Linked DNA regions of Homo sapiens. The protein of the gene in region 3 purifies or fractionates together with the protein of the main gene of each other region. This does not show direct contact. Each region holds a gene or a part of one and is shown on either strand. Other genes may lie near its edges. The genes, in order: HKDC1, HERC1 and UCN3.

Region 1 (3,754 bases), about 64 Mb from region 3:
GAAAGTGGATTCCTAGGCAGCGCCTCCTTAAGTAGCCAGTAGAGGGCTCTGAATCTAATCAACAAGTGATTGCTTTATAATGTTTTTAAATTTGCTACAACCTCTAACTCAACTCTCTAAATGAATAGAATTTAGTGGGAGTTTATCCCACCAAGTACCTGAGGGCTGTAAGGGGCCACACTTCCTCTCTCTCTTTCTTTGTTTTGTTTTGAGACGGAGTCTCATTCTGTTGCCCAGGCTGGAGTACAATGGCATGATCTCGGCTCACTGTAACCTCTGCTGCCCGGGTTCAAGGGATTCTCCTGCCTCAGCCTTCTGAGTAGTTGGGATTACAGGCGCACTCCACCACGCCCAGCTAATTTTTAAATTTTTAGTAGAGACGGGGTTTCACCATGTTGGCCAGGGTGGTCTCAACCTCCTGACCTCAGGTGATCCACCCACCTTGGCCTCCCAAAGTGCTGGGATTATAGGTATGAGCCACCATCCTTGGCCTTTTTTTTTCTTTTCTTTCCTTTTTTTTTCAGACAGGGTCTCACTCTGTCACCCAGGCTGGAGTGCAGTAGCGCAGTCTCCCGGGCTCAAGCCATCCTGCCACCGCAGCCTCCCGAGTAGTTGGGACTGTAGGCACACACCACCATGACCGGCTAATTTTTACATGTTTTGTAGAGATGGGGTTGCTCCATGTTGCCCAGGCTGGTCTCAAACTCCTGACCTCAAGTTTGAGATGAGATCTGCTCATCTCAGCCTCCCAGTGTATGCAGATTACAGCCGTGAGCCACGGTGCCTGGCCTCCTTATTCATTTTGTAAAGCAGGAGGGAGTCATGGCACAGCAGAAAGCATTGAAGGAAGAGTCAGCCAACTTGGATTTAATCCTCATTCCATCCTAAATACTTGGTGACCTTGGCTAAGTCCTCCTGCTAGGAGGACTTCTGTCATCTGCACTTTGAGAGATGCTTTTTGCCCAGGGCCGTGACAGCCAGCCGGTGTGGCCAGAGTAGCAGACTGGGCTCATTTTAGCTGCCTGGAAAGAACCCTGGTTCCCTCCTGTTGACCCTTGGCAACCTTTAACCAGCCCACTTTGGAATGAATTTTGTAGACAAGTTCCCTGAGCAAAGTGACAAAATAATGCACACCATGAATAGTGTACCATTGGCAAATAGCAGGTGCCAATAATAGATATTTCAATTACTGTCTATTGCAACTCACACCTTCTTGCTGCCCACATTTATATGCTTTCAAATACATGAACAAACAGATCTGCCCCAACAGTTCTTTTTTTTTAGATGAAGTCTCACTCTTGTCCCCTAGGCTGGAGTGCAATGGCGCGATCTCGGCTCACTGCAACCTCCACCACCTGGGTTCAAGCGATTCTCCTGCCTCAGCCTCCCGAGTAGATGGGATTACAGGTGCCCGCCACCACACCCAGCTAATTTTTGTATTTTTAGTTGAGACGGGGTTTCACCATGTTGGCCAGGCTGGTCTCGAACTCCTGACCTCAGGTAATCCGCCCACCTCGGCCTCCTAAAGTGCTAGGATTACAGGCGTGAGCCACTGCGCCCAGCCTTCTGCTCCAACAGTTCTTAAAACTTCTTTGAAAATGATTCTCCTCGCCTTTGTGGCCTTTCCGAGCAAACATCCCTTACAGCAAACACAATCCTCTTCAAGCTTTCCAAACACCCTCCTCACCCGCTTCCGCATCCAATACCTGCCAGGAAGTTCCGAGTGAAGTGTAAGGTTCAGGACAGTAATGCAATGCCCAGGAGTGTGGGAGAATTACTCCCTCTTCCCTCAGTGAGTCTTTTACTGGTCATATGCTCCCAGTATCTTTTCTAATAAGCTCTCTTCACTCCCTTCTGATTTTTTTTTTAAGGGAATCAGTTTTGTCCGTGAAGAAGGAGCTGGGCATCTCTCAGCTTCGTGGGTCCTCCTTACCTTCTTGATCTGGTCCTCCTTCAGCTTGCTGAAGTAAAATGCCATCAAGTGGACCGCAAACATTTTCCCCAAGTTTGGTTTCTCCTGAGATGGGCAGAGATTCCTGTGCAGTGTTCACTCCTACGACTCTGGAGTGTTGCACGCTTCCAGTCCAGGCTGGCAGACCTCCTGGGGAGCGAGGTGTTGCGGACTAAATACCTCCAGCCTGCTTGGTTCAATGATTAAACTCCCCCCCACCCCACCCCTTTGGTCCCTCCCTCTGGCACACACTTGATTGTCTAATAGGAGGCTCTGGATGGTAGCTGAGGTTTAGTGGAGGGGGAAGCAGGGTATTGATGGGTTGCTTGACTACTTGAGAATTGGGTGCCACCAAATCTCATTGCTAAGCAACCCTCTCAAGCCGGGGCTCTGCCAAGCCCACTCAGCCGAGGAAAATCTTCTGCGAAGTTGGGCACTAAACAAAGCCAACTTTCAACCGGTGGAGCTGCTCTGCAAATTTCCAGTCCCAGGCTTTTCTCTTTAGTTTTTTATGCCAGTGGCATAACTCTGTGACCCCCTGCTCCTCAGAAGCACTGAACTAACTAAAACTAAACATTGTCCTGGTCAATGGGATTTCAAGAATGTTGGGGCAGATTCTTCCATTTGTGACAGATCAGATCTCTTAACTAATAGCCCATGGTTAACAGAAAATGATCAATAAATGTTTACCTATTCACAGTGTTAAGCCAGAAAATCTTTAGTTCACAGGTAGTGACCCAGGAAAAAATATTCCTGAGAAAGAGTGAACTGAAGTCACCAGTGCTCACTGGGAATCACTGCTGGAGAGAAGGAAGTCACAGATAAGAAATGTCTCAGTCCAGCCGGGTGCAGTGACTCACGCCTGTAACAATCGCAGCACTTGGGGAGGCCGAGGCAGGCAGATCATGAGGTCAGGAGTTCGAGACCAGCCTGGCCAACATGGTGAAACCCCATCTCTACTAAAAATACAAAAAACTTAGCCAGGAGTGGTGGCAGGTGCCTGTAATCCCAGCTACTTGGGAGGCTGAGGCAGGAGAATCACTTGAACCTGGGAGGCAGAGGTTGCAGTGAGCCGAGATCGCGCCATTGCACTCCAGCCTGGGTGACAAGAGCAAAACTCCATCTCAAAAAAAGAAAAAAAAGAGAAATGTCTCAGGCCACTGAGATGTTTTATTCACTCACTTCTCACTCATCATACTTGACATGAGAAGGACCCAGAAAGCACCCAATACATGGGTACAATCAACCTTGCACTCTTCCCACAGTCACTGGCTGGCTAATGAAACCAATAACAACAGCGTTAACAACAGCGGCTAACATGGATGGAGCATTTACCAATCCCATTTTGTTTTTATTACTCTTGTTATTATTATTTTTTAGACAGGGTCTCATTCATCCCCCAGGCTGGAATGCAGTCGTGGAATCATGACTCGCTGCAACATCAGCCTTCTGGGCTCAGGTGATCCTCCCATCTCAATCCCCAGGGTAGCTGGGGCTACAGGCACGTGGCACCATGCCCAGCTAATTTTTGTATTTTTGTAGAGATAGGGTTTTGCCATGTTGCCCTGGCTGGTCTTGAATTCCTGGGCTCAAGCGATTTACCCACCTCAGCCTCCCAAAGTGTTGGAATTACAGGCATGAGCCACTGCTCCCGGCCCACTCTTATTTTATAGATGAAAAAATTGAGGCCCAGAAAGGTTACGTGATCACAAAGCCATAAACAGGACAGCAAGGGGTCAATCCTGGAAGTTTGATTCCAGGGCCCAGCTATAATACATGGCATTGGCTCTCCAGCCCTGCTTT
Region 2 (3,654 bases), on a different chromosome or scaffold from region 3:
AGCCAGAGTTAAAGCAGTGCTACCTCTTTTGCAGCTATCCTTGTAGTCATGTCAGACATGACTTTTGAAATATAGTAGATGCCTTATTCTGCAGGTTCTGAAGAAATAGTTAATTATTGACATTTTTTCCTTAAAAAGTACCAGCTAATCAGAGGTAGTTCACAAATTTTATTATTTCTCATTATTTTTTACTTAGACAAAATTTAGGATATTTTGAAGTTCCATAGGCATTAAAAGCATAGCCTTTTTGGATATAAAATATCCAAAAAGCAAAGATGTCCCAGTTACTAGAAGGAATTTCGCAGATTAAATGGTGATAGCATTATTTTTTATTTAAACAAATTTATTATGTGGCATGATTTATTTTCAACCAGGATGTTTTGGTCGTGAATTGTACAGCAGAATGGGCAGCTGCCAATCATGTTTTGGCAACCTGTAGGACAGCATTGAAACAGCAGGGTGTTCTGGGATTGAACATGGCTCCCTGCATGAGAGCATTTTTGGAGCGGCTCCCCATGATGCTTCAGGAGCAGTATGCCTATGAAAAGGTAACTCATTACACTCACTCCTAGAGATACACAGATACCTGGTGCTTTGGAATGTGATTATAGCCTTGAACTTATCCCTTAAAAGCATGAGGTCTGAGGATAATAAGTGGGGCTATTTGGGCAGAATCAAATGAAGGTAAGTCATGCCTAAAAGAGTTGTTCAGCAACCCTAAGCCTATTCTTGCTTTATTTTCACCAGAGTAAAATAAAGAAACAAACACCAAGTTTGTATTACTGCTTTTCAGATTATTTATTCACTCCAAAGCTTCTTAAAATACCTATGCAGCAGAATATCTTCCCTTTTCTGACCCACACATATATCTATTTTTATATGGCTTGGCCATTCCAAAGTTGAGGGATAGGGATGGATGCGGGTATCAGACTGAATATCGTCTCCACTTATTAGATAAATCTTTGTGGAAAATTTAGTGGAAGAGCTATGTTGAATTGAGTAGGGTCATTAAATACTGGAATGAGGAATTGCAGCGTTTGAACTTGTCCAGACAGTGATCCTAAAGTAGCCTGTCTTCCAGCTTTTTGCTTTTCCTTTGATGGCTACCAGGATTCTCTTATAAAGGAGGAAAGTGAGAAGAGCAGATCTCTGTGGTTAAATAGTTACCTGCTTTTTTTTCCAATCAAGAAAAACCATGATGAAAATGTACTATATGCAGTGTGATAGCTTAGATTGGATCCTGGAGCAGAAAAGGAGTATTAATGGGAAAACTGAGGAAAACCAAATAAAGTTCTGTGGTTTAGTTAGTATTGTACCAATGTTAGTTTGTTAGTTTTGATAAATGTGCCAGGGTTGTATAAGATGTTAACATTGGATAAAGTTGGGCGAAGGGTATACAGAAATCCTCGGTACTATCTGTACAACTCACTCTAAATCTAAAATTATTTCCTAGCAAAAAGCTTAAACAGTAAACTTGAAAAATATGATTCCAGACTTTCAGACTACGGTAGGTTAATTTAGAATATTTGGCACAAACTCTTTGACATATTATATCCTTGTATTTTGTTTTAGCCTCATGTGGTTTGTGGTGACCAACTTGTTCATAGCCCCTATATGCAATGCTTGGCTTCCCTTGCTGTGGGACTTCATCTGGATCAGCTGTTGTGTAACCCTCCAGTGCCACCACACCACCAGAACTGTCTCCCTGACCCTGCATCCTGGAATCCAAATGAATGGGCCTGGTTAGAATGTTTCTCAACCACTATAAAAGCTGCCGAAGCCCTGACCAATGGAGCCCAGTTTCCAGAATCTTTTACCGTTCCAGATCTAGAACCTGTTCCAGAGGATGAACTTGTATTTCTAATGGTAAATGTACTGTGAGCTGCTATTATTTGCAGCTGAGATTTTATCATGGGTATTGGGCATGTAGCAGACCCCTAATAAGTCTTTGCTGGTATGCATGGCTAGAAGGATACCCTTAAGAGAAATGGAAAATATTTTTCTTTCAGATAGTCACTTTCAATCTGATGGCAGGCCTCCATAGTGACAGGAATTGATAATGTAAGCACTGTTGAACTCTTGTAAACCTGCCACCTCTCAATGACATAGTCCCATATTTTCTCATTTTCTTTTGTCCATAGGTACTTTGTTAGTGCTTTAGTTGTATATATCTTAGCATCTTTTCCTGGTCATCTTGTGGGTTATATGCCACATATAGATTCTAATTTATTTGGCATTTCAATCATGTCTTTAATTAGCATCAAATAAAATATAGAAGAGCATTCTAATTGTCATTTCATTCTGTTTGTATTTGAGAGTGTCTACTCTAGAAACTGTGACATAGATAAAATACCTGTTTAGACTACAGGACAGCACATGATCTAACAACCTCTTTGTATACTTAAGATTTATGTATACAAACATTTGGATAAACATTGATACAATATGAAACAGACAAATATAAATTAAGTAAAATTATGTAACTGTAGCTATGCATCACTTAATGATGGGGATATGTTCTGAGAAATGCATTGTTAGGCAATCTTGACGCTGGGAATATCATAGAGTGTATAGTACTTACACAAACCTAGATGATACAGCCTACTTGCAACAAGACTATACGGTATAGTCTGATTACTCCTAGGCTACAAACCTGTACAGAATATGACTGTATTCAATGCTCTAGGCATTTGTAACAGTGATAAGTATTTGTGTATGTAAACATAGAAGATATAATAAAAATAAGGTTTTATAATCTTAAGAGACCATCTTCACACATGCAGTTTGTTGTTGACTGAAATGTCACGTGGCACAAAAGTATACAATATTTTAATCAGAAAATGTCCTTCTAAGCCCATTTGGCCCAACTCTGTAATTTTGTAGATGAGGAAGCTGAAGCCCAGAAAGATGAAGTAATTTGCCCACAGCTACACAAAGAGTTTACAGGGGTGTGGGGTCCTCCACATGACCTTGTACCTGTGGGTGTTCAGAAAACACATGGCTAGCTTTGAATCACCAATGCCATAGTGATAGTGATAGTGAAAGTGTTTATAATAAAGGGAAATACTGACAGTGCATAAAATCAAGTTTGACATAATTATAAAACTGCTCTTAATTTATCATAATATTACCATATTCTTTTTTGGAAATAAGACTTAATGATTAGAAGAGGACTTTGTGGTTAAGAGCAGGTGCATCTTGCCTAAGCAGAATTGATCATTATGTACCCCCTGTTTTTCAGGATAACAGTAAATGGATTAACGGCATGGATGAACAAATTATGTCTTGGGCAACTTCCAGACCTGAGGTCAGTAAAGATGAAGATAACTGTATGATGGTTCTCAGTCAATGTTTTGATTCTAAATGCTTGTGTGTTTGTGCCCTGGTGTCTCCCATACAGGCTGGCACACACTTGGTACGTAGTACATGGCTGTTTGAGTGAATGGATGACTCTAATTTTGAGATGATTGTGGTTTTCTAGGACTGGCACCTGGGAGGTAAATGTGATGTCTACTTATGGGGTGCTGGTAGGCATGGACAGCTGGCAGAAGCTGGAAGAAATGTAATGGTACCTGCAGCAGCTCCCTCATTCTCACAGGCCCAACAGGTAACTAACAGGATAAAAAATAGAAAAGAAACATGGGAACTGAAAAT
Region 3 (3,654 bases):
GGACCCAACCCAAGCCCAACCAGACAGCCTTAGGCTGTGAGCGATGGACAGAACCAGCGCTGACCCTTAGCAAAGGGAGCCTGGGTCTCTTTCTAAAGGAGGATCCTGTAAGTCCCCGCTGCTTCACTTACCCTGGAAACAGACACACACACAGGACGCACAGGAACATAGACAAGCACACATACAAACAGGTACACATACACATACACATGCACCCACATACAGATACACACATATATACATGCACACATGTGCATATACACACCTTACACGTACATACACATACATATAGACACATGCACACACATATATACATGCACATACACGCACACACACCTCACACATACATATAGACATGCATATTTATACATGCACACATATGCACACATACACACCTCACACGTACACATATGCACATACATACACATGCACACACATATACATGCACACATATGCACACACATACATACCTCACATGTACATGCATACACACAACCATACACATGCACACACATACACACCTCACACGTACATACATACACACACATACATATAGACACATGCACACACGTATATATATGCACACATATGCACACACATACATACCTCACATGTACATACATACACACACACACACCTTACACACATACACATGAACACACATATACACACGCATATACACACGCATATACACACGCATATACACACGCATATACACACACATACACACGCACACACACGCGCACACACACGCGCACACACACGCGCGCACACACACGCACACACACATATACACACGCATACACACACACACGCATATACACACGCATATACACACACATCATATACACACACATATACACACGCATATACACACACATCATATACACACACATATACACACATACACACACACATACACACACATACACACACATACACACACATATACACACACATACACACGCATATACACGCATATACACACGCATACACACACACATATACACACATATACACGCATATACACACACATATACACACATATACACGCATATACACACACACATACACACACATATACACACGCATATACACACACATACACACATATACACACGCATATACACACATATACACACACACATACACACGCATATACACACGCATATACACACACACATATACACACACATATACACACGCATATACACGCATATACACACGCATATACACACACATATACACACGCATATACACACGCATATACACACACATACACGCATATACACACGCATACACACACGCATATACACACGCATATACACACGCATATACACACGCATACACACACGCATACACACACGCACATACACACACATACACACGCATATACACACGCATATACACACGCATATACACACACATATACACACACATATACACACGCATACACACACATACACACACATACACACACATATACACACGCATATACACACGCATATACACACGCATATACACACATATACACACACATACACACGCATATACACACGCATATACACACACATATACACACACATACACACACACATACACACATATACACACGCATATACACACGCATATACACACACATATACACACACATACACACACACACATACACACACATATACACACACACATATACACACACACATATACACACACATATACACACACACCCACGTGGATAAATGTTTACCCAGCACATTTCCTGTCAAAGCCTGTTCCTTCCCTTGGTTCTCCACATTGCAGCTGTTGCCTTTCTTTCCTTTAATTTTTTTGTCTAAGAAATCAGGTTTTGCTTTGTTTGTTCCATTTATTTTGCATTACAAAAATTTTGAGAGCTTATTTTATGCACTAATATTTTTCATAATTTATGAGAAAACACATGATCCTCGCTTTAAATAGTCCAAACCTATGAACTAGCCAGATCTGGGCATGTTGCCTGGCGAAGTGAGAACAACACAGGCTTTGGAGTTAGACACAGGCTCGAATTCCTTCTTCGTCCTTATTTCCTTATTTGCCTGAGGGTTTGGGCCGATAACCTCTGTGAATTTCAATTTCCTTCTCTGATAAATGGGATGGCAATAACCACCTCATGAAGGTTAAGTGAAGGATTCGATGAGAAACGTCAATGTGTGTATGAAAGCTCCTTGTCTGAGCAGATGCTCAATCAAGGCTGACCCACACCTGAATAATCTCCAGGTCTTCTTAGGAGAAGATCTGGTCTGCACACAACCTTTTCAGAAGTGCATTTTACACACACAGTTGTGTATACACAATACACATATGTACAGAGAGACCAGGAAATCTGAGCAAGCATTTGATCCTGCAGAGCAATGTCCTTGTTGTATCGTATCTCTGGCTTGTAGCTTTTGGCTCCATGCTACCCTCTCCACCCTGACCTGTGCAGACTCCTTTTGCCCTTAGTCTAAGTAAGCGGTTCTCAACTTTCAGGTGCTTTGGACTCATGTGAAGGCGCGGTTCAAACACAGCCTGCGGGGCCCCGTCCCAAGAGTTTCTGAGTCACTGGGTCTGGATGCTCCTGAGAACATGCATTTCTAGCACAGTCCCACGTGATGCTGATGCTGAGGTCTGAGGGCCACACTCTGAGAACCGCTGCTCTGCGTGCTCTGACCCGACTCTGGACTCCTTAGAGCTGTACCCCGGAGTTCCAGGGGTGCACTAACCGTCCCTGTGGAAAATGGGCTTTTCTTTCCTTAAATGTTGCATTCAATAGGCAGACCTTCAGCTTTCTCATTTACAGAGGACCTAATGAGTTGTTTTTCATAAATAGAGTATGAAGCATGGTTTTAGCTGCCTTATACCTTGAAGGCATCTTAAAGCTTGGAAATTATTTCGAATGGCTTGCTAACCCTGAAAGGGTTTAAAAAAACAAAAACCAATTTGGAAAGGTTAATACTGGGGGGAAAGTGGTGGAGAAACTTTGTCTCTCTGTCCCTTTCTTCCTTCATCCCTTTTTTCCTTTCACTACCAGACTCAGTCCTGTCCCTCCCACTCACTAGCTCATGCCTAACCGCCCAGGACCTCACTATTTTCCTCTGTGAGAGCAGGGGATTGAGTTCGAGAATCTTTGTTCTGATTTCTTTCTTTTTCTACTTCTGAAAGCCAGAGGTCCCTCTACGAAAAGCACTGGGAGAATGAAATGAGTTCTTGATTTTCACCAAATGAAAGGCGCCTGGACTCTGGGTGGGTGTAAGCTAAAATAGAGGGTGCTGGCCGGACTGGGTGGCTCACACCTGTAATCCCAGCACTTTGGGGGGCCGAGGCAGGTGGATCACCTGAGGTCAGGAGTTTGAGACCAGCCTGGCCAACATAGTGAAACCCTGTCTCTACTAAAAATACAAAAATTAGCCAGGCGTGGTGGCACACGCCTGTAATCCCAGCTACCCAGAAGGCTGAGGCAGGAGAATTGCTTGAGCCTGGGAGGTGGAGGTTGCAGTGAGCCAAGATCATGCTACTGCACTCCATCCTGGGTGAAAGAGTGAGACTCTGTCTCAAAAAAATAAATAAATTAAAAAAATTAGAGGGTGCTGAGATGCAACCCTGGAGCTACCCTCAGGCCTCCCTCTGTGGGTTCCA

What was found.
Region 1: the proteins of UCN3 (region 3) and HKDC1 purify together in Homo sapiens (affinity purification with mass spectrometry; one large-scale study listed by BioGRID and IntAct). This does not show direct contact.
Region 2: the proteins of UCN3 (region 3) and HERC1 purify together in Homo sapiens (affinity purification with mass spectrometry; one large-scale study listed by BioGRID and IntAct). This does not show direct contact.

The regions. Positions count from the first base shown.
Region 1 is NC_000010.11:69,218,678-69,222,431, reverse strand, and holds the start of HKDC1 (hexokinase HKDC1), read right to left. Parts: upstream 2,101-3,754; 5' UTR 1,997-2,100; coding exon 1,934-1,996; intron 1-1,933. UniProt on the Homo sapiens protein: Catalyzes the phosphorylation of hexose to hexose 6-phosphate, although at very low level compared to other hexokinases. Has low glucose phosphorylating activity compared to other hexokinases. Involved in glucose homeostasis and hepatic lipid accumulation.
Region 2 is NC_000015.10:63,638,364-63,642,017, reverse strand, and holds part of HERC1 (probable E3 ubiquitin-protein ligase HERC1), read left to right. Parts: intron 1-374; coding exon 375-548; intron 549-1,572; coding exon 1,573-1,866; intron 1,867-3,241; coding exon 3,242-3,307; intron 3,308-3,481; coding exon 3,482-3,607; intron 3,608-3,654. UniProt on the Homo sapiens protein: Involved in membrane trafficking via some guanine nucleotide exchange factor (GEF) activity and its ability to bind clathrin. Acts as a GEF for Arf and Rab, by exchanging bound GDP for free GTP.
Region 3 is NC_000010.11:5,367,939-5,371,592, reverse strand, and holds part of UCN3 (urocortin-3 preproprotein), read right to left. Parts: intron 1-3,654. UniProt on the Homo sapiens protein: Suppresses food intake, delays gastric emptying and decreases heat-induced edema. Might represent an endogenous ligand for maintaining homeostasis after stress.